5 separate regions of the Homo sapiens genome follow, and all the other regions are linked to region 1. The links come from fine-mapping of genetic effects on gene expression. A gene starts in region 1. Each other region holds a variant in brackets. All regions are shown on one strand. Distances are from middle to middle. Region 1 holds the start of C14orf132 (chromosome 14 open reading frame 132). Region 2 has its middle 55 kb from the start of C14orf132. Region 3 has its middle 73 kb from the start of BDKRB2. Region 4 overlaps C14orf132 (chromosome 14 open reading frame 132). Region 5 overlaps C14orf132 (chromosome 14 open reading frame 132).

The links. PIP is the estimated chance that this variant, and not a neighbour inherited with it, causes the effect.
Region 2: its variant is the best candidate, but not a certain one, in a credible set for the expression of C14orf132 in whole blood (TOPMed, PIP 0.64).
Region 3: its variant is the best candidate, but not a certain one, in a credible set for the expression of C14orf132 in whole blood (INTERVAL, PIP 0.67).
Region 4: its variant is the best candidate, but not a certain one, in a credible set for the expression of C14orf132 in whole blood (INTERVAL, PIP 0.83).
Region 5: its variant is the best candidate, but not a certain one, in a credible set for the expression of C14orf132 in tibial artery (GTEx, PIP 0.87).

Annotation. Positions count from the first base shown.
Region 1 is chr14:96,037,784-96,041,902 of GRCh38, forward strand. C14orf132 (chromosome 14 open reading frame 132) reads left to right here and starts at 1,579. Exons shown (of 2, transcript NM_001252507.3): 1 at 1,579-1,744. The coding sequence starts at 1,718. RefSeq lists silencers at 1,429-1,618, 1,639-1,688.
Region 2 is chr14:95,982,170-95,986,288 of GRCh38, forward strand. No RefSeq gene overlaps it. Among named protein-coding and RNA genes, the nearest start is that of C14orf132, 55 kb to the right of the region's middle. The variant G/A (reference allele first, on the strand shown) is at 2,221.
Region 3 is chr14:96,130,035-96,134,153 of GRCh38, forward strand. No RefSeq gene overlaps it. Among named protein-coding and RNA genes, the nearest start is that of BDKRB2, 73 kb to the right of the region's middle. The variant A/G (reference allele first, on the strand shown) is at 2,451.
Region 4 is chr14:96,062,200-96,066,318 of GRCh38, forward strand. The region is part of intron 1 of C14orf132 (chromosome 14 open reading frame 132); the gene reads left to right. Among named protein-coding and RNA genes, the nearest start is that of C14orf132, 25 kb to the left of the region's middle. RefSeq lists a silencer at 509-686. The variant G/A (reference allele first, on the strand shown) is at 1,810.
Region 5 is chr14:96,091,207-96,095,325 of GRCh38, forward strand. It overlaps C14orf132 (chromosome 14 open reading frame 132), which reads left to right. Exons shown (of 2, transcript NM_001252507.3): 2 at 1-2,765. Among named protein-coding and RNA genes, the nearest start is that of C14orf132, 54 kb to the left of the region's middle. RefSeq lists enhancers at 967-1,136, 3,303-3,803, 3,804-4,119. The variant C/T (reference allele first, on the strand shown) is at 2,248.

The DNA of each region.
Region 1 (4,119 bases):
TAACCTATGCAAGGCTATATTATTTTTCAAATTGCACACACACAACCTATACGCCCTTTTATTGTGAAGTATGCCGTGTACATAATATTTCTTACAGCAGACGGGGAGCCCTGGGCAGTTCTGGGCAGGCTGCTTTGCTATTGGCCACAGGAAGGGTGGGAGGAGGTGGGCGGCTCTTGGCATGGACTGTTTGGGCAGGCCCCGTGTGGACTAGGCTGGGAGGTGGCAGGAATGATGGGTGTGGTGAGTGCAGTACTGGCTAAAAACAGGGAGGGAAGGGAGGGCCAGGGAACTGGAGGGTTTAGAGACCAGAGGAGGAAGGGAGGAGGCAAGCATGACAGGAAAAGTGAAAAGAGAAAAGAAAGAAAAAAGTGGGGGGAAGGGGAGAGAAGGAGAGAAGGAAGAGGAGGAAGAAAAGGAGGGAGAAAGGAAGGGAAGGAAAAGAAAAGAAAGGAAAGTTACAGGAAAGATAACACTGAAAGCCTTCTGTAGGTCAGTGAGGTTCTGGTCCCATTCCCATAGCCACAGTCCCTACTGGGCCCCCAGCTGCCGGGGGACCTTGAACAAACCCCTCCATCTCCCTGTGCCACAGCTTCCTTGCCTGTGACAAAGTCTGGGAGTCCCAGGCTGCCCCTCACAGAGGCTCGTGATGACCATGAGTGTAAAGTACCTGGAAGAGACATCACCCAAAGGGACCAGTCGTACTCACTGAGACTCCTTAGAGTACAGCTGGTTCCCTCCCAGTGAGCCCCCGGAGGGCAAAGCCTCCACGTGTCACCAAGTCTGTGGTGTCCACCACACACACACACACACACACACACACATACAGAGCAATGGGCCCCTGTGGGCGTCTCTTCTGTTCCCCTTACTTGAACTGTGGCACCTGCATGATTTTCGATACTGGTTTGAGCTGAGAGCCATGGAGTACCCGCTGTGCAACCTGAGCACCGTGCGGTCCTCGAAGACACCACTCACAGCCTCGTCTCTATTGGATGATTAGCCATGTTAGGGCTCTCATTTATTGAGGACACCGCGTGCTATATTCCCTATCTCATTTAATTATTCGGTTCTGTATTCTCTTTTCACAGATGAGGAAATCTAGGCTCAAAGACACTATCTTGCTCAAGCTGCACAACAAAGCAGGGCTAGGATTAAACCTCGTTCTGCCCAGATGCCGAGCCGGGAGTACACCGGACTCTGGGAGGAGCGTTGGCGTGGAAAGCCAGGTCACTCCGATCTTGGTCCTCAGGCTCGGGATAACGTGTCAGCCCCAAGAGAGCGCTGCCCACAGCCCCGGGTGGGTTGGGTTCAACTGCACGGGGCGGGGCGCCAACAGCTCAGGACTTGGGTTGCAGGCTGGTTCTTGCACCAACCAGCGGGGCGGCCTCGGGCCTCAGTTTCCCCATCCCGCCCACGAAGGGAGGCGATTGCGAGCGCTTGGGGTTTCTGACGGACCCCGCCCCGGGGGTGGGGCGGGGAGTGGTCACGTGGAGGGGCGCCCCGTCCGCCGAGCCCCGCCCCACCCCGCCCCGCCCGCCCCCGCGCTCGGGGCCCTCCGCCTAGTAGAGATCTGGAGCCAGAAGCCCAGAGACAGCCGAGTGCGCCGTGCGGTCTCCGGACGCTCGCTGCTCAGCCCGATCCCCGCCAACTGTGCAGGCGGCTGACCCGCAGCGGCAGCGGCAGCAGCGAGGACTCGAGCGCTGGCTGCAGCGACACCATGGATCTCTCCTTTATGGCCGCGCAGGTAACGGGGCGTCCCCCCCACGCGCCCCGGGCCGCCAAGTTTGGGGAGGTTCGGGGCCACGGTCTCGCCCTCCACGCTGGGGCTGGGCAGTGGCGCCCGCCCGCGATCCGCGTCCCGGTCCTTTGTCCCGAGCCGGACACCCCCACTTGGTGCACGCGTCGGGGGCGGCGATCGCGGCTCTCCCGGGGTGGGGCGGGCTGCGCGCCCCGCACCCCCGCGGCTCGAGCTGTTCCCGCCCGGGCCCCTCTCGTTGGCAGGAAGGCTGCGAGGAGCCTGGGCAGCCCGAGTCGCCCCCTTCTGCCCATCCCCCACTGCTGTCCCCCTTCTGGGGTCCCGGAGCCCTCCAAGGCCGGGCCAGCTCAGACCCGCGCGAACGTGGATGGGCACACAGTCTCGCCCTTCCCCACTCTGTTTTCCCGAGGCGCCAGTAATCTGTCTCTTGCCGGTGACCTCGGGCGCCCCCTTTGCCGCCGCCTGAGGAAGGCTCTGAGACCCGCTTTGTGACCGTGACCCGCCAAGCGTCGACGCGCCGCGGTCGTTTGTCCTGTTTTGCTTTGTGTAGAGTCTGATGGAGCCACCAGTGCCCAGCGCGGCCAGAACCCCCCCACCCCCCTCCCCGACACAAACAGGCTCCCAGTGGCCGGAAAAACAAATCTCTCACAGCTTGAATTTTCCTCCGGCAGAATGCCCTGGAGTTCTGAGCTTGGGTGATGATTCTATTTCTGTGCCTTAACTCTCTTGAGCCAGAACAAAGACAAATCCCGGATTTCTCCATCAGTCTGTGACCCTAGAGAAGACCCAGAGCTGGCTCCAGGGAAGGGCTGCGTTTGGCCTGGGAGAGTAAGTCCCAATCTACCAAAGCCACATCTTGCACCTTCTCTGGTTGTGTTGGTTGGTTATGGTGGGAGCAGAGAGGTCGGGAGGCCACCCAGGCTCCCTTCTGTCTCCAGGGTGTGTGGCAGGGACCCCATCTGCTGCTGTTTTCTTTTACAGGGAACGAAGTTTGAGGGGACACTTGCTTTTTCCCCAAGCTTCACCTGTAGTGGAAGCCTGTTTAAAAAGTGACAGCAAAATCCAGACTGTGTGTGGACAGCGAGTCTGCAAATGGAGGCTTAAAAGATGCGGAAGCCCCAAGTTAGTTCTGGGGGTCTAGATCCTGGCTCTCCGGCAGCCCCTTAAGTTTTCCATGATGCTAATTGCCCTTCTGAGTATCGCTGGCCCTTTTTTTTTTGCCTGATTTTACATCTCCTGTGCCTAAATCCATACTTATAAAAATTGTCATGTAAACATCATTTTAGATAATGATGGTTTTAGCTACATGAAAACTAAGGAGGCTTTCCAGGATTTATTTCTAGACTGGAGAAGAACTGTGTCTGCCTTCCCCTCTGGATCCCACTGAACCTCCGGAATTTCCATGGTTAACAAGATAAACTGATCCCTGCTAACCCTGGAGCTGGCTGGAGCATCAGTTGCTGCCATGGCAACTTGACGAAATAAATACAGGGCTTTTTAACGTCTTCAGGCAGAATCTGCCCAGAGACCAGGTTCCTATTTTTCCTTTTTTGTTTACAATTCACATTCCACTCGGTCAATGTATTCTCCTTGACACATTTTTGACACTGGTTACATGCGCAGTACTGTGCTAGCTGCAAGGAACAGAAACATGAAGTACCACACATATGAGAACAGACGCTAAGGTTTGTTGAGCACCTACTATGTGCCAGACGCTGGGTGCTTGGCATATTTTATCACAGCAAATCCTTACAAGTCCATGACGGAGGCCCCATTTTACAGGTCAGGACACTAAACGAGATTAAATAATTTGCCCAAGAGCATGCCATTTGCAAGGAGGAGAACTGGATTTCACATCTGGGCCTGAGTATCTGCAAAGGGTTTTCCACCTTATTGCTTCATCCTGAGAAAGATACGATGTAAGGTACAGGACAGATCTATTTCAGAATGATTTCTCTCTTCTCTTCCCTCTGGGAAGTGGGCTTACTATTGTGCCTTTCTAGTAGATTGCTTTCTGCTGTTGATTCATCCCATTATCCCCATAAGGATGGGAACTGTTACTTCCCTACCTGCAATACTTCGCAGTGCTTGGCTGGAGCAAGTGCTCAGACCCTGCTCCTGGTGTGTCCTGTGGCCACCAGGTGTGTGTGACAGTCACTGTCTCTCTGTGCAGTCTTTCCCTCAGCAGGGGGCAGTTTGCAGCGAAATGTTGGTGCATCCATCCACTTGCTCAGCAAATGTCTAGTACCTGCCTTGTGACAAGCTCCGTATCAGGCACTGGGACAGGGATCCTGTGGGACAAACTTGAATAGGACGTAGATTTTCTTTCTGCATGTTTATAAAAGCTTCAAGAAATGATGGGC
Region 2 (4,119 bases), 56 kb before region 1:
CCCTGGCGGTTCCCTCACTCCTGGAAACACTCCCTTGCTTTGATGTCCCGAGTCCAATACATGACCCCATCATTCCTCCTGCTTCCCTGGCTGCTCCCCTCCCCTCCCCTTGGTTGGTCCCTCCTCATCACCCGCACCCTGCACCTCTATACCTCTTCCCTGCTTAGTTTTATTCAATTGCTACGTGCAACTTGTTTATTTTCCCTGGCTCCTCCCACCGTGAATCCGTGAAGGCAGGTGCTTTGACTGTTTTGTTAATTACTTTACCCCAGCGTCTAGAAGAGTGCCTTGTGCATGGATGTTTGTCAGTGGACGAATCAATACATGTGATTGATGATGACAATGGTGGCAATGGCAGTGACGACATGACGAAGTGTGCACATACCCTAGATGCTGTTCAAACAACACCCAGTTTGGACGGAACAAAGGTGTGCAGTGAAAAGTATATAAAGAGGATGTGATCAAATCTGACTTCTCATCCCAGTACCCTCTGTTCATTACAAGTAGCTTAACTCACCTGAGCTGGATTCATCCCAGAGATTTAGACAATATCCAGCCCAAGAACCAAGGGATAGTCAGATTCTACTTCTAACTGAAGAAGGTAAGTGCACCCACCCATACTTGGAGAACTCTCTTCCCTGAGATAAGCTGGCTTGACCGGCTGGAGCCGAAATGGCTGCCCTGTTCCCACACTCGCCTGCTGATGGCTTGTGTCTGGGCTTACGTCTCTTTTCCCCGGACCCTGCCCCTAGCTCCTTCTCCTTCTTCGGCTTTCCCCAGCCTCTCAGCTTCCAAAGATACTGCCTAGAGCCCTTTATAGCTGCTTTCTTTCCCTTCTCATTTCTATTCCTGCCTTATTTCACCGGCATGTACACTTTACTTATTTTACAGCGAGCCTACAATTTTGAATCCAGCTTTTAGTCTTAACATCATGGCCTCCACATTGTATGCAGTTGCAGAATGTTCTCATTTTTATGCCCCAGTAAGTGTGCTGATTGGATTATCCATCACCCACTCAGTGTTGGAGCTGGGCTCTGTGCTAGGTCCGTCTCGGTTTCCAAGGAGCTTGCAGCCTGGCTTCAAGATTTCATGCCCACGCTAGCTTAAATAGTCCTTATTATTGGATGTTTGGGGTTTGTTCAGATATCCCCTTTGGTAAATGATTCTGGGATTAATATCGTTGGGCATAAGGGTTTTCCCAGTTTGGGGGTCGTTCATTTCTTTGACCTTTTATGGAGCACCTCTATACTGTCAGCCGGTCTGCATTCAACTCGACAACATCCCTGCATTCCCATCCCCTTCTTTGCTGCATCACAACCAAATTTCCCAGAGGCATCTTTAAATGAGGTTTCTGCTTCATTTCTACAAATGAGAAGCCCTTGCTTGACACATGGCAGGAAAAAGAGAAGAAGCTGTTCCTATTCAAAGGAATCTGAGGATAGGCAGCTGGGATCGTCAGTACCAAATGCCCTTTGCTTCTTGGTGTCCACTGCAGTCTTCCTGCTCCAGGGATGTGGGCAGCTGGGATCACCGACGGTGCCTTTGCTGTAAAACCCAAGCCTTTATACTACCTCGGATGGATGATGTGGTGTTCCTCTCATATCCTCTCTTCAGGGGGCTGATGGGTCACAGTTGTATCCCTCACTGGACATTGCCCTCCCCGTGGGGTTTGGCCTTGCCCAAGCTTACATCCTTTCCAAAAGAACGGCCAGTAGCCAGTGGCTGGCCAGTGCCTAGATACAAAGGCCCAGCTCTCTTTTTCTGGTTTGAGACAACACTGAAGACCATCCCAGCTCCAGAGCTCCCCGTAAGACTGGCTGAGGCTTTGCAGCAACCACACTGCGAGTCAGCATCTCCTTCCACCCAGTCCTCCTTCCTCCTTTCCTTACAGCTGCATCCCCAAGACACTTTTCAGTAAACCTTCTATATACAACTGTCCTTCTCAGAGCTGTTTCCAGGGAACCCCTAGACACTGATCTTTGCTGCCCAAGCTCTTACAATGATCACATAAGCCATACAATTTCAGAGTATGTATTTGCTATGGCAACTGCACTGATTATCTTGATGAAAACAGAAATTGAGGCTGGAAGTAAAGCTCTGTTATGGCAACAAACCTAAAATACGTGATACTTGCTTCATTGTGGGGTGACAGGCATTGAGGAAAATTATAACTTAGGAAGCAAATATGTCAATTCATGTTGTCCTAAAACACTACCATGT[G/A]TGGTGAAACCTGCCTATGGTTATTTCGGAAGCAGACCATGTGCTTACTAAATTGACAACTCTAGGGTTGGACTTGGAAAACATGTCTTCAGTGCTATGTGTTGGTTGCTATTGGCTGCATTCATAAGGTATTATAAGAAGAGATGAGCTTACAGTGAAAAAAAAGTTGGGAGGAGGGGAGCAGAGAGGGAGGAATAGAGAGAATCCAGAAATGTGAAGATTAGACCATGAAAAGCCAAGTGCTTCTGGATCCCAAACAGGAAGACATGGAGCAAAAAAGTCTTTAAGGTATAAAAGCTCAACCAAATTTCCCTGTAAAGATCAATTCATGGCAAAGATCAGAGTAAGGGCAGGATTTTCCTACCTACTACTCCAGATGACTTCAGTGGCGCGTCCATTGAGTTGGGTGGGGCACAGGGCAAGGGAGTGAAGAAATAATGCAGATTGAGAACCAGTTTTAAAATAGTTTTTTGGGTGCAGTTACTGATGCATGGATTTGGCTGGGAGCAAATAAATCACGAGTGTATAGCATACCTCAAAGATACTGTGGGTTTGATTTCAGACCACCGCGATAAAGTGAAAACCAAAATCAAGTGAGATACATGAATATTTTGGTTTCCCAGTGCATATAAAGTTATGTTTACACATGCTGTAAGCTATTAGGTGTGCAATAGCATTATGTCTAAAAATGTACATACCATAATTTTAAAATACTTTATTGCTGAAAACTGCTAACAAATCATCTAAGCCTTCAATGAATTGTAATCTTTTCATTGGTGTAGGGTCTTGCCTTGATGCTGAAAGCTGCTGACTGATCAGGGTGACGGTTGCTGATGGTTGGTGTGGCTGTGACAATTTATTAAAATAGACAAACATGAAGTTTCCCATATCGATTAACTCTTTTCTTCACAAAATATTCTCTGTAGTATTGTATGCTCTTAGATAGCATTTTACCCACAGTAGAACTTCTTTCAAAATTGAAGTCAGTCCTCTCAAACCCTATCACTGCTTTATCAACTCATTGTATGTAATATTCTAAATCCTTTGCTGTCATTTCAATAATATTCAAAGCATCTTCACTGGGAGTTGACTTCATCTCAAGAGATTTTAGCAATTCACTGATATCTTCAAGTTTCCCTTCTAATTCTAGTTCTCTTGCTGTTTCCACTACATCAGTAGTTACTTCCTCTGCAAAGTCTTGAACCCCTGGAAGTCATTCATGAGGGTTGAAATCAATGTCTTTCAAATTCCTGTTCATATTGATATTTTGACTTCCTCCTATGGATAAGGAATGTTCTTAATGACATTTAGAATGGTGAGTGTTTTCCAGAAAGTATTCAATTTACTTTGTCCAGATCCATCAGAGGATTCACTATCTATGGCAGCTATAGCCTTATAAAATGTATTTCTTAAATAATAAGACTTGAAAGTCAAAATTACCTCTTGATCCTTGGGCTGCAGAATGGATGTTGTGCTAGCAAGCATCGAAACAATATTCGTCTCCTTGTACAGCTCCATCAGAGCTCTTGGGTGACTAGGCTCGTTGTCAATGAGCAGTAATATTTTGAAAGGAATCTTTTCTTATGAGCAGTAAGTCTCAACAGGGGACTTAAGATACTCAGTAATTTATTCAGTAATCAATTTCATTAATTTCTCCTCTTCAGCTATGGAAGTCCTAGATGGCCTTTTCTTCTAGTAGAAGGCTGTTTCATCTACACTGAAGCCACCTTCATCAGTGGTCTTCTGGATAACTTGCTGCAACTTCTACATCAGCACTTGCTGCTTTCCCTTGCTCTTACATGTTATGGAGACAGCTTCTTTCCTTAAACCTCATGAACCAACCTTTGCTAGCTTCCAGCTTTTCTTCTGCAGCTTCTTCACTTCTCTCAACCTTCACAG
Region 3 (4,119 bases), 92 kb after region 1:
TCAGCAACCTGACTTAGACCGCCTTCCTGGTGGAGAGGAAGGTTGAGGTAAGTGCCTAACCCAGGTCTCTAACTTATCTACCTCTTTTGTTCCCAGGGTAGTAACCACCTCGCCCTTCCAGTTGCATTTCAGGCACTTCAACCAACCTAAGATGAGCACGATCTATGTGCCATTTGCCAAGACCGGGAAGGCAAAGAAAACATGGGCCCTGACCTCAAGTTGCTCACAGCCACGCTGGAAAGAAATGTTGACCAAGATTGTTATTAGTGTCTAAGATTCAGTTCTCTGGAAAGGAACTGTAATATGGGGAACCAGATTCAGAATGGTTACTGGGTATTGCTCTCGAAGGATTCACCAGTAGGAAGAGAGGAAGATAGAATTGGGAAGAGAGAAGGGACCCACACTGTGGTACAACTGAGACCTCAGACAATCCCATGTGAAACTCTGGAGCTGGGGAGGCCCTTCAGAGTTGCCCCAAATTACGGTAAATGGGCTGGATCTTCATATCCCTAATCAGCCAGTCATCAGCCATGGGCTGCCCCTGGGAGACAGTATAACAGCGGGTGAGACACAGGATGGTTCCCAGTGAAGGACTCAGGGCAGGGCTGGGGGCACCAGGGGGAGGTCGGGCCACAGTCCCTGTGCGCTTACAATGGACAAAGGAAGGCAGCTCTGACATGAATGATGATCGAGACTTTTATTTGCATTAATGAGTGAGATAAAAGTGATATTCCCAGCAGGGGGATGGGCGTATTGCCTGAAGAGGGAACCTTGATTAGGTTTCATAATATTCATATCAGTTAGGTTGACCATATAATTTATCCAAACTAGGACACTTTCAAGAGAGAAAGGGAGTATTATTAATTACATCAGTACAACGGTTTCTGTGCACAGTTCTCATTTTACAGATGAGGAAACTCAGGCACAGAAAGGTTGAGAAACAACATCATTTGCTAACAAGTAGTAGTGAAGAGGCAGGGCCAGGTTTCACACTCTGGCAGTCTCATTCCAGTGACTAATTCTCAAGACACTGTAGAGGTAGAGTTGGCAGACTTGGCGATGGATTGGCTGAGGGGTGTAAACTGGGAGGGCCAGAAGGGATCCTGGCATTCAGGCTTGAGCAACTGGGAAGATAGTGGGACTCTTGACCTGAGAGGGTGTCAAAGTAGGGGGAGGGGAGGGAGGAAAAGGGGATCTCAGACCTTCAGTGAGTGGCAGTGCAATCACTCTGCTGGCTCCTTTTATTTTTTGAGATAGGGTCTTGCTCTGTCACCCAGGCTGCAGTATAGTGGCACAATCATAGCTCACTGCAGCCTCAAACTCCTGGGCTCAAGGATCCTCCCGCCTCAGCCTCCAAAGTAGCTGGACTACAGGCACATGCCGCCAAGCCCAGCGCATACTCCATGCCCGGCTAAATTTTTTATTTTTTGTAGAGACTGGTCTCAGTATGTTGCTCAGGCTGCCCCACTGGCTTCAGTGTAATAAGTGGAAACTGAAAGATAGCTTTCTCAAATTACTCATGTTTATTGTAGAATTATCCAATATAAAACAATATCTTATCTAGAATTTTTCAGTCTTTCTAAACAAAAGCTTCCTAGTGATGCACCCCCCTGCCCCCACACAAACACTTTTTTAGGATGGGGTAGACAGCCACAGTACCTCACCCTCAGGTGAGTATCTCAAGAGCCTATTGGTGGCCCAATAGCTATGGATGCTGTCGCTTCTCACTGCGGACTGCATTTGCTATAAGGGCTCTCTCAGAGCAAGGAGCTTCCAGCCAGAGGCTCACCCTCTCGCACTGGGACAGGAGACACAGCATGCAGCTCCGTGGTGGCAACAAGGGTGCCTGGGCTATGAAAGCTCAGAGTTCTGCTCCAAGTGGGACATTTCCTTCTGGGATTGGTCCCCTAGTGACATTGCTGCTCATGCCCTTATGATCGGTTACATGCAAACTTGCAAACCCTCAGGGTTGATCTTATATACTGTGCGTGTGCACATTGACTCAGCTACCCCCATCCATTTGGCTGTGGGATTTCCTGATATGCAAATTGGGCAACCCTTAGAACAAGAGCTGATAAAATGTCATGGCCAGAATTGAGACTTAGATTCCCAAATGATACACTTAAGCATGTTGTAGAAGGGAAGCTGAGAAGAGAAGCAAATTCGGAGAGAAAGACTAAGGATTCAGCCCTGCATATGACTAGTTTGAGGTACCAGTGAGGCATTCAAGGGAAATGTGTGCCCATGAGAGGTTGACTTTGTAGTCTGAGTGTTTAGAGAGATCTTGGTTTTCTATAGAAATCAGGGGATCATAAACTGGTTCATGGTCATTATCTGCTGCATGGAAAGTATTGGCATGGAGAGTGCCTAGAACAGAACTATGAGACCCTATAGCATTTGAGGGCTGGATACAAGAGGAGGAGCTGGCAGAGGAGTCTGAGGAAGAACAG[A/G]TCAGGGCAGAGGGGACCCAGGAGAGGTGACTGTCAGAGGATGCCAGGGAGTGGGTTTTAAGGAGGAACAGTCAGTAGTATAAATGCTGTGGAGAGGTGTACAAGATAAAGTCTCCAAAGCACAGGCCACATTTAGAGAGATGCAGGTCACCATGGCAAGGACCAACTTCAGTGAGGGGGCTGGGGGCAAAAGCCAGAAGATTGGTTAAAGAATGAGCAAGAATGGGTAATAGGAGTTACAGAGAGCAGGTAATTTGTTCAAGAAGTTGCCTGTCAATGGCTGGTGTGGGGTGACAAAAAAAAAAAAAAAGCCCTAATGGGTGGGGCATGATTTCAAGGGAGACATTTGCAGAGATAAGAGAGCTAGGCATGTTTTTTGCTGATGGGAACTAATAAGGAGATAGAATGGGGCAGGCTGAAGACACAGGAGAGGGAGGAAGCATTGAAGAGGCTGAGATCCAGAGAAGGAAGACATTAACGGCAAGAATGAACCATTCTCTGCTCCCTCCATGAACTGTGCCTTTGTGAATGTCTTAAATTCCGCAATCTGAAGAATAGGTCAACTAAAGGGACAACGACAAAACCACTCAGCCTGCATCATCAGTGAGTGCCAACTATGAAACAGACATTCTCAGCGAGAAAACTGAGCACAAAGAAGAGCAGACAGATAGATCGATCCATCCATCTATCTGTCCATCTATCTATCCATCCATCCACCTCCTCAGCCACCCATCAATTCATCCATCCATTGATCCATCCATCTATTCATCTATCCATCTATGCACCCACCCATCCATCTACCCCCTCACCACCAACCCACCCATCCATCCACCCGTCCATCTATTTGCATATGAATGAAAATATGGTGAAACTAAGCAGCAGGAAGGACACAGACCTGGAGGGGTTAAAGACTGGAAGGATGAGTGAGGCTAACTAAGGTGTGAGTGCTGCTGGCTTCACTCTCTGTGGTCATTAACTTGCTAATGGAGTCCCTACCTCCATTAGCTGGGCGATCAGCAAGCCAGATCAATGGGACCATGGATCTACTGCTCTAGAGGTTTCCTTAGAGCCAAAGTCCAGCTGTCTAGACTTGTGATCTGCCCTTGGGTCAAATCTGTGAAGAATAGGCTATGTGGGGTGTCCGGAATTCAGTCAAGAGCTCTGATTTCTTGTTGAGTCATTGCTGTGTGATCTTAAGGATACCTGTGCACCTTCCTAGGTTTCTGTTTCCTCATTTGTAAAATGGGAGAAATTTGGGCAGGCAATAGATGATCCCCAAAGCCCTTTTCAGCTCTGAGGTTAAAAACTATTCTAACCCACTTAAAAACTGATCAAAGGACTTAAATAGACATTTCTCCAAAGAAGATATACAAAAGGCCAACAAGCATATGAAAAGATGTTCAACATGTTAGTCATTAGAGAAATGCAAATCAACACTTCAATGAAATACTACTTCACACCCACTAGGATGGGTATCAAAGAAATGAAAAATAGCAAGTGCTGACAAGGATGTGAAGAAACGGGAACCCTTGTATATTGATGGTAGAAATGTAAAATGGTACAGCCAGTGTGGAAAGCAGTTGAGTGACTCCCCAGAAAGTTAAACATAGAATTACCATATGGCCCAGCAATTTTACTTCTAGATATATACCCAAAAGAACTGAAATAA
Region 4 (4,119 bases), 24 kb after region 1:
CATATGTCTTCTCTGAACCTTCCACAGTCTGCCCACTAGGGTGTTGAACCACAGGTCAGGTAAAGAAAATGGGCTTGGAGTGAAGGACTGGATGTGTGGCTATGCTACCAGAGAGAGAGCCTGACTGCACCCTGGCCTGAACCCCTAGTCCTCTTTCACCCTCAACCATGAGATGAGCATCACCAGCTCCAAATGCTCCCCATTAATCAAGAAAGAAAACAAAAAGGACCAATGGATCTTCGTGTTTTCCTTTCGTCAATCTACTTTCTCTCTCCCCTGCCTTTTGCAAAAGCTGACATGGAGATTGCAGCCCTCCACATGTGTCTTTATGGTAATAATTTGAAACACCAGCACTGCCTGTTTCAATTGGAAAGGAGGCATTTCCTGCCTCTTAGGAAAAAGTCCTCCTGCCCAGCTCCCTGCTCACGGCTGCTAAGGTTCACATCCTCGCAATTCCACCACTCTGAGCTGCATCCGTGTCAGAACCGCTAGGGAGTGGTCCAGATCCCTTTGCCAAACATTTCAGCAACTGGAACCCAGGTTTCTCAACAGAGGATTAAAGCGCTGTCTTCACTCCTGGGCTGCCAGGTACATTCTTCCTTGGCCTTCGGAGTGCCCTTACATACTCTCAGGATGAATCCAGTCTTGTTTCTGAGATGATTTTCTTTCCAACAAACAGGTTACTTATGGAGCATAATATAGACTTGATTTTGCCCAAACAAGCCACTGAGCATTTATTGAGTGCCTGCTATGTGCAAAACACTGAGGATCAAAGACACACCACAGACCCTCTCTGCCCAGAGTCACAAAAAGAGTGGATGTCAGTACTTTTATCACAGAAAAAAATTTTTTCATCTGATGCTTTTAAAGAGTTTGGAAGGTGGATGAGGCAGGGATCGTCATATCTGTTTGATAGCTGGGTAAGCAGAGGCCAGGGAGCTGTGAAGCAGCCGTTGACTTGCAGCTGGGGCGGGTCTCAGGCCTCCTTGCTCTTGTCCAAGCTGCCATCCCCTCAGGAACAGAGGGTGAATAGGATGGAGGTTCCGTATAAGAACTGACCTCTTGAAAAGTACTGTCCACCCAAGGAACAGGACTGTGGTATCCTTTTGTTTGTTTGTTTGTTTTTTGAGACAGAGTCTCGCTCTGTCACCCAGGCTGGAGTGTAGTGGTACAATCTTGGCTCACTGTAACGTCTGTCTCCTGGTTTCAAGTGATTCTCCTGCCTCAGCCTCCCCAGTAGTTGAGACTACAGGCAAACGCCACCACGTCGGGCTAATTTTTGTATTTTTAGTAGAGACGGGGTTTCACCATGTTGGCCAGGCTGGTCTCAAACTCCTGACCTCAGGTGATCCACCTGCCTCAGCCTCCCAAAATGCTGGGATTGCAGGGGTGAGCCACCACACCCAGCCATGTGGCATCCTTTTGAGGAACAACAAAAGTTACGTCCCTACATTGGCTTAGGCAAGGATTTGGTGACCAAGAACCCAAAAGCAAATGCAATAAAAACAAAGATAAATAGCTGGGACCTAATTATTCTAAAGAGCTTTTGCACGGCAAAAGGAACAGTCAGCAGAGTAAACAGACAACCCACAGAGTGGGAGAAAATCTTCACTATCTATACATCTGACAAAGGACTAATATCCAGAATCTACAACAAAATCAAACAAATCAGTAATAAAAAAAATAAACAATCCCATCAAAAAGTGAGCTAAGGACATGAATAGACAATTTTCAAAAGAAGATATGCAAATGGCCAACAAACATATGAAAAAATGCTCAACATCACTAATCATCAGGGAAATGCAAATC[G/A]AAACCACAATGCGATACCACCTTATTCCTGCAAGAATGGCCATAATCAAAAAACAGTAGATGTTGGCAGGGATGTGGTGAGCAGGAAACACTTCTACACAGCTGGTGGGAATGTAAACTAGTACAGCCACTATGGAAAACAGTGTGGAGATTCCTTAAAGAAATAAAAGTAGAACTACCATTTGATCCAGCAATCCCAGTACTGTGTATCTACCCAGAGGAAAAGAAGTCATTATGTGAAAAAGATATTTGCACAGGCATGTTTATAGCAGCACAATCCACAACTGCAAAATCGTGGAACTGACCCAAATGCCCATCAATCATCGAGTGGATAAAGAAACTAGGGTGCATATATACACACACACACACACACACACACACACACATATACATATATGTATATATATACACATATATACACATATATATGTGTATATATATGTGTATATGTATGTATATATATATATGATGGACTACTAGGCAGCCATAAAAAGGAATGAATTAATAGCATTTGCAGTGACCTGGATGAGATTGGAGACTCTTATTCTAAGTGAAGTGACTCAGGAATGGAAACCCAAACATCATATGTTCTCACTGGTATGTGGGAGCTAAGCTGTGGGGATGCAAAGGCACAAGAATGATACAATGGACTTTGAGAACTTGGGGGAAGAGTGGAAGAGGGGGCATAAAAGACTACAAATACGGTGCAGTGTCTACTGCTCGGGTGATGAGTGCACCAAAATCTCACAAATCACCACTAAAGAACTTACTCATGCAACCACAAACCACCTGTACCCCAATAACTCATGGAAAAATAAAATTAAAAAAATTAAAAAATAAAAAAGTCACGTCCTCATCTTAATTTGCTCTCCTGGCATTTTGCATTTTCCATGCTGGGATTCCGCTCTGGCCAGCTCTGTTGAACAGGCTTTGCTGGTTGGCAGGGATTGTGCACACACATGGTGCCACCTCCCTTAGCTTCTCTGGCCCTGTTTTCTTCCTAACCCAGTGTGCTGTCTTCCTCCCATACATAGGTAGGGGGTTTTGACGTGACTTCCTGGACATCATGTGTAGCGGTCGGGGGAGTTTTCTCTGGCTTCTGACCCAGCTGGGTGTACTGAAATAACTGTGAGGCTGCAGGGTTCTGAGCCGGATTGTGTTGGCACAGGATGGCCACCTCTGTGCCTTCCTCTTCTGCTCATACAGGTGCCCCTGGGGAGGAGGGTGCAGTGTGTTCCCCTGAGAGCTACATTGGTTGGAGGAGACTATAGCATTTTAGAACGTCCTCCTGGAGATTCCGATGTGCATCTCCAGTGGAGAATCTGGCCTTTTGTTGCTGTTGTTTCATGCCATGATTACTACTGAAGACAATTTTGCCATATAGAGGAGAGGATGTTTAAAAATAAACCAAAAGGATCCACTTAGGGAGGTAAACATCCTGGGCTTGCCGTTGCCCCGGCCGCCGCTTCACTCCAGTATGCGTGTGCTCGCTGATGGAGAATGATGCTCAGTTTCACTTTTATTCCTTTTGTCCTCTCCTCTTAGCCTTCATCACCCCCCACCACTTTCCCCTTCTCTCTCTCTTCCTCCAAAATAGGGATTACATAGTTTTTTTCTTGGTACCTCTGGCTTCTAGCCTGACCCCCTCCACCCCCAGCATGTAGTAGGTGCTCAGTAAAAGGTCTGTTCAGCCAATGAACGAGATAACAATTGAACAAACACATTCCCCACCCATCCTCCTAAGGCCCTGAGACTTTATTCTGCTCAGTGGCAAGGAATTTAATCTGATTAGGAGGCTGCTGACCCACACAGGGGACGCCCATTTGGTTCCAATGACACTGCTGAATCACTTCAAAGATGCTATCGAGTTAATTGGGGTAGAATAAATACTAATTTATGGCAACCTTTGCCAGCTCTTCCCCAAGGGAAAATTTTTAAACTCCCCATCCTCTTGCTTTGCTTGACCGCTGAGATCCAGTGAAAGTGGCCTGAACTTCCCATAGCTGAGCCAACAGAGGCACAGCCTCCTCCCCCTTATCCCCACCTCAGGAAGCCACAGCCACGTGGAGGAGCTCCTCAGGTACAGCCAGGGAGGTGGGGCATCTCAAACAGGCCTTGGCTGTTTCTTCTTAAGGTTCTTAGCCAGCCTCCTCTGAATGCAAGCTGTGGCTCTGGGGCTTGTCCCAGTCCCCTGAATTCTCACCATGGACCATGGGATGCGCGTGGAGGACAAGGTCCCCAGGGCCCTGGACCACACCATCTGAGCCTTTCTGTCCCCGCAGGGCAAGTGCTTCTTCCATTATTGCTAAT
Region 5 (4,119 bases), 53 kb after region 1:
CATCTCGGGATATGAGGCCTCGGAGGCTGGGGTTGAGATTTGGTCCTGAAGAGCTTATAGCCAGATTGCCACATTCAAGTGTAAGTCCAGGAAAGGGGCAGGCGGCAGTGCACAGGGATTTATCAGTTCCAGAACCTCACAGTGATAAGAGGCTTTAGAGAGCATCTAATCGAGACCTTTAATTTTTCGGGGAGAGCAGCTGAGGCCGTGTGGAAAATTAGTGGAGAGCTGACAAGTGTCTGGGCTCCTGGCCCAGGGGTCCGTGGTCCAGCACGTTGTGCGTTCAGTGGGAAGCAAAGGGCTTGCCCGGGATTACCTGCCCCAGCCCCGAGGTGGGTTGTGCTCCCTGCAGCTGCCATCGGCCCGCTTTGCTTCGTCCTGGCAGATGCCCAGTGATTGTCCCCGAGCAAGTGCCAGGGTTGGGCTGAGCTGCTATGACAGGGAGGCCCAGGGAGTTCTGCTCAGGGAGCCAAAGGGAACAGCCAGATCCTGAATGTTCTATGTTCACCTGCCCCAGCCCCACCCACCCTGGCCCACTCCACAGGCCCCTGACCATGGTCACTCACGGAGAGGGATGGAGGAGAAGGTGGTTGAACTGAGTACTGAGAACCCAGAGGACAGAGCCCACAGCTTCCAAGCAGGAAAAGGGACCTCTCTGAAAAATCTGGATAACCAGAATTATCACAGCACCTTCTCATTCCCAGCGCGTCCTTCTGAGCTCAGACCTTGAGCATTTACTGGGTTTCTTTTTGAGGAAGAGGGAAAGTGACAAAGGACAAAACAATGCAAATCTTCATGACTGAAGACGATCAAAGACTCCCTGGAGCGAGAAAACAGTTACTGCCAGAAGCAGAATGGAAGAGCCAAAAAGTACACAAAATGGACGCCATAAATTCTGAAATAAAAGTGTATGATGTGTTCTGAGTCACTGTAGAAGTCATGCATTTATTATCAAGATAGAAAAGAGCAGAGAATGACGTGGACATTGGTCCTCGGAGAGGCTGCGTAGGTGGTGCGGTCCCCGGGGGATTCTGGATGCTGGTCTTTTGACCGTGGCGGCAGCCTCGCGCCTGCCCGGATGGCTCCATCCAGACATTTGGCAAGGCTGTCATCTGCTCTTGGGTCCTTTTTCAAGCTGATTTCCTGCCTCCCCAAGAGGAGGTTTGAGCCCCATTCTGCCTTGGAAATAAATCCTGACAGATGTGCACAGCATATTTGCAGGGAATTTGCAGGCCTCGATTATTGGGGGAATCAGAGCCCATTCCACACCGAGCCCCATCCACGTGGCTGAGCAACACCCCTGTGTCCCCTGTATCTGTCTCACTGGCTGTCTTTCTCCCAGTTTCTTAAAGAACCACACCATTACTGCGTTTGCCGTTCGAAGCGTTGTCCCAACAATGCAGATGGTTCTGACAAGGGCTCTATATGCTGGCAGAAGGGAGCTTCCAACCTTTTAACTTGAGGAAAATGAATCTCTGAGAGGCTTGAGAGTGTTGCCAGGTGGAGCTTTTCAGGAGACAGGGGTCTTGAGCCCAGGACACCTAACTATCGAGTTTTCACTAGGAGACTTAGTGGTGGCTTTCATGAGGCCAGTCGTTCTCAAGGAAGGGCTGGGGGCCATCAGCAATGTCTGGAGACATTTTTGATTCTCACAGCTTGGTGGGGACTGCTATTGGTATCTCATGGGTGGAGGCCAGGGATGCCACCGAACATCCTACAATGCACAGGGCAGCCCCCCACAAATAAGAATTATCCAGCCCCAAAATGCCAATAGTGCCGAGGTCAGGGGACCCTGTGCTGGCCATCCTATCTCTGATTCTGAAACTATGCATGCTTTCCACTTTTCCCCATTTGTGAGTCATTGAGTAAATTAAAGCTCTTCTGAGCAGCAGCAGTGATCATGGTCACTGCCCTGCGTTCAAATAATGCGAGCTGAGGACAGTGATCTGCAACTCCCAGCATGTCATGTGGTCTCTTAGAAATCCATGTGACTGTTTCCACCATCTTGGGCATTTGTGGGGACCCCCAGACTGGAGGGAGAAAGCCCTACAAAGTGGATGGGAGTGTGGGGCTGAACTTTTCCCTACCCTTAACTTTGTGTCTCTGGGACCTCCAGGGACCTGGCCCCTCACCAATGCATATGAAGAGTATGCTTGGGGAAGAGCTTAGGAATGGGGTGGGCATGGGAGTGCTGGGTAGCAGCCTTTGAGCAAATCTGCATCTTCTCTTATTTCTGACCTTTTTCCA[C/T]GTGCCCAGTCCTATTTCTGCCAGTTGAAGGCATACTAATATTCTTTATACTATTTAATCTTTTGCAGAAACCTTACTATTATAACTTGCTACTCTCCAGATACCAATTCTTCATGCCGAGAGCATCGGAAATGTTTTTGTGTCTTACTGATGTTTTCATGATCAACTTGTAAATGTAAGCAGTTGACTTCATAAAAGGTATTTTAACTATTCTTGGAGTCCTTTGCTACCCAAGCACCTGGTTTCACCATGCGATCACTGACTTCTCTACAGTGAAGACTCTTTCTTAATAAAGGATTTCGCTGTGCTCTTTTGATTAAAAATATCTAACCTTAAAAGACGTAAAAATGTATCTGTGAAATCTCACTTTGTTAGCGTTGCTGCTGTTGTCATTTTCTATTATGATAACTGAAAAGAGAAAAGAAGAAAACATGAACTCCTCTGTGTCTGGTTCTCATCTGTGCTTTATGCAAAGGAGATGATCTACTCAGCTTTAAATGGCTCAGCCCCAGCGTCACCTCCATTCTGATGCTTTTCCTGCCCCACCGAGGCAGGACAGGTCCCCTCCTCCCTATCCCCTCCTGATACCACTCTATCATCACACCTGTAGCAAATCAAATCACGGAAGCTACATTCAGTTTTCCCAACTATCTGAGCCATCTAAGAGCAAACTTATCTTATTCAATGTGTTATCCCCACCACCCAGCACAGTGCCTGGCTCCTAGCAAACATCCGATATTCTGTGAATGAGTGAATGATACCTAAATGACCAGCCCGGTACATTTCAACACTATGAGGAACATGGACCATATCATTTTCCTTATTAGTTCACTGATAGTAACAAACATTCGTATAGCACTTATGAGGTGTTTGGCGCAGCTCTGAGCTCTTTCCACACATGTTAACTCACTTAATCTTCGTTTTACAAATGAGGAGTCTGAGGCATGCAGAGGTTTCTTGCCCAAGGCCATGTAACTGGTGAACCAGGACTGAAAACCTGATTCTGGGTCAGTCCTGGGCTTAGGCCTCAAGAAGCCTTTTTTTTGTTCTGTCTTTGGAACCCTGAGGATGCAAGCAAGGCTAGCCTGCTGGATGAGGAGAGACCAGAGCCTGGCCATTCCTAGCCTGCCAACAGTCCAACAGATAAGAGAGCCAAGGGAGGGGTTAGAACAAGAAGGTGTTCCATAATGTCAAGAGCTGCATGGACTTTGTAGGCAGCAACTAAAGAGCTCACTGAGGACTGCCTGGAGGAGGCAATACTTAACTTGGCATGGAATCTGCAGAAACAGGTGCACAGCAGAGGTTGCATGGGGTTCGGGCTAGAAGACCAGGCTGGATAAAGGTCAAGGCAGCAGTGGATCTGAGGCTGCTGAGGATGAAGGGATACAGCCAGCTGAAAGGGGCCTTGAATGTCAGGGTGGGCACCATGGTGGGCCATGGGCCACTGTTGGCCATAGGGAAGCAGGGCTGGTTCTCAAGTAGAGAGGCCTGCAGTTTCTGGAGCAGGGAGGCAGCAAGAGAACTGGGAAGGGGCTCTTGATTTTGCCCCTCGAACCTGCTCCTCTGGCATCTTCCCTCGCTCGCTGGATGGCACCTCCGCCCTGCACCAGTGTGGCTGATAAGGTGGGGTCTCCCTCCCAATCGTGTGCCTTGCAAAGATGGCAGAGGCTTTCACATGGCCCAAAGGACTGCGTTCTCAAGACTGATAAGCATCATTCTGAAATAGCAAAAATGGCTAGCAGCAAGGTTTTTCAAGAAAAGGAGGCATCCCTGGTCCAATGCTGCTGAATGTGTCTCAAGAAGCTACAGCCAGTCCAGCCCAGGCCACAGCGTGTCCCTCACTTCCTGCCCCACCCTCCTTGCTAACATTTA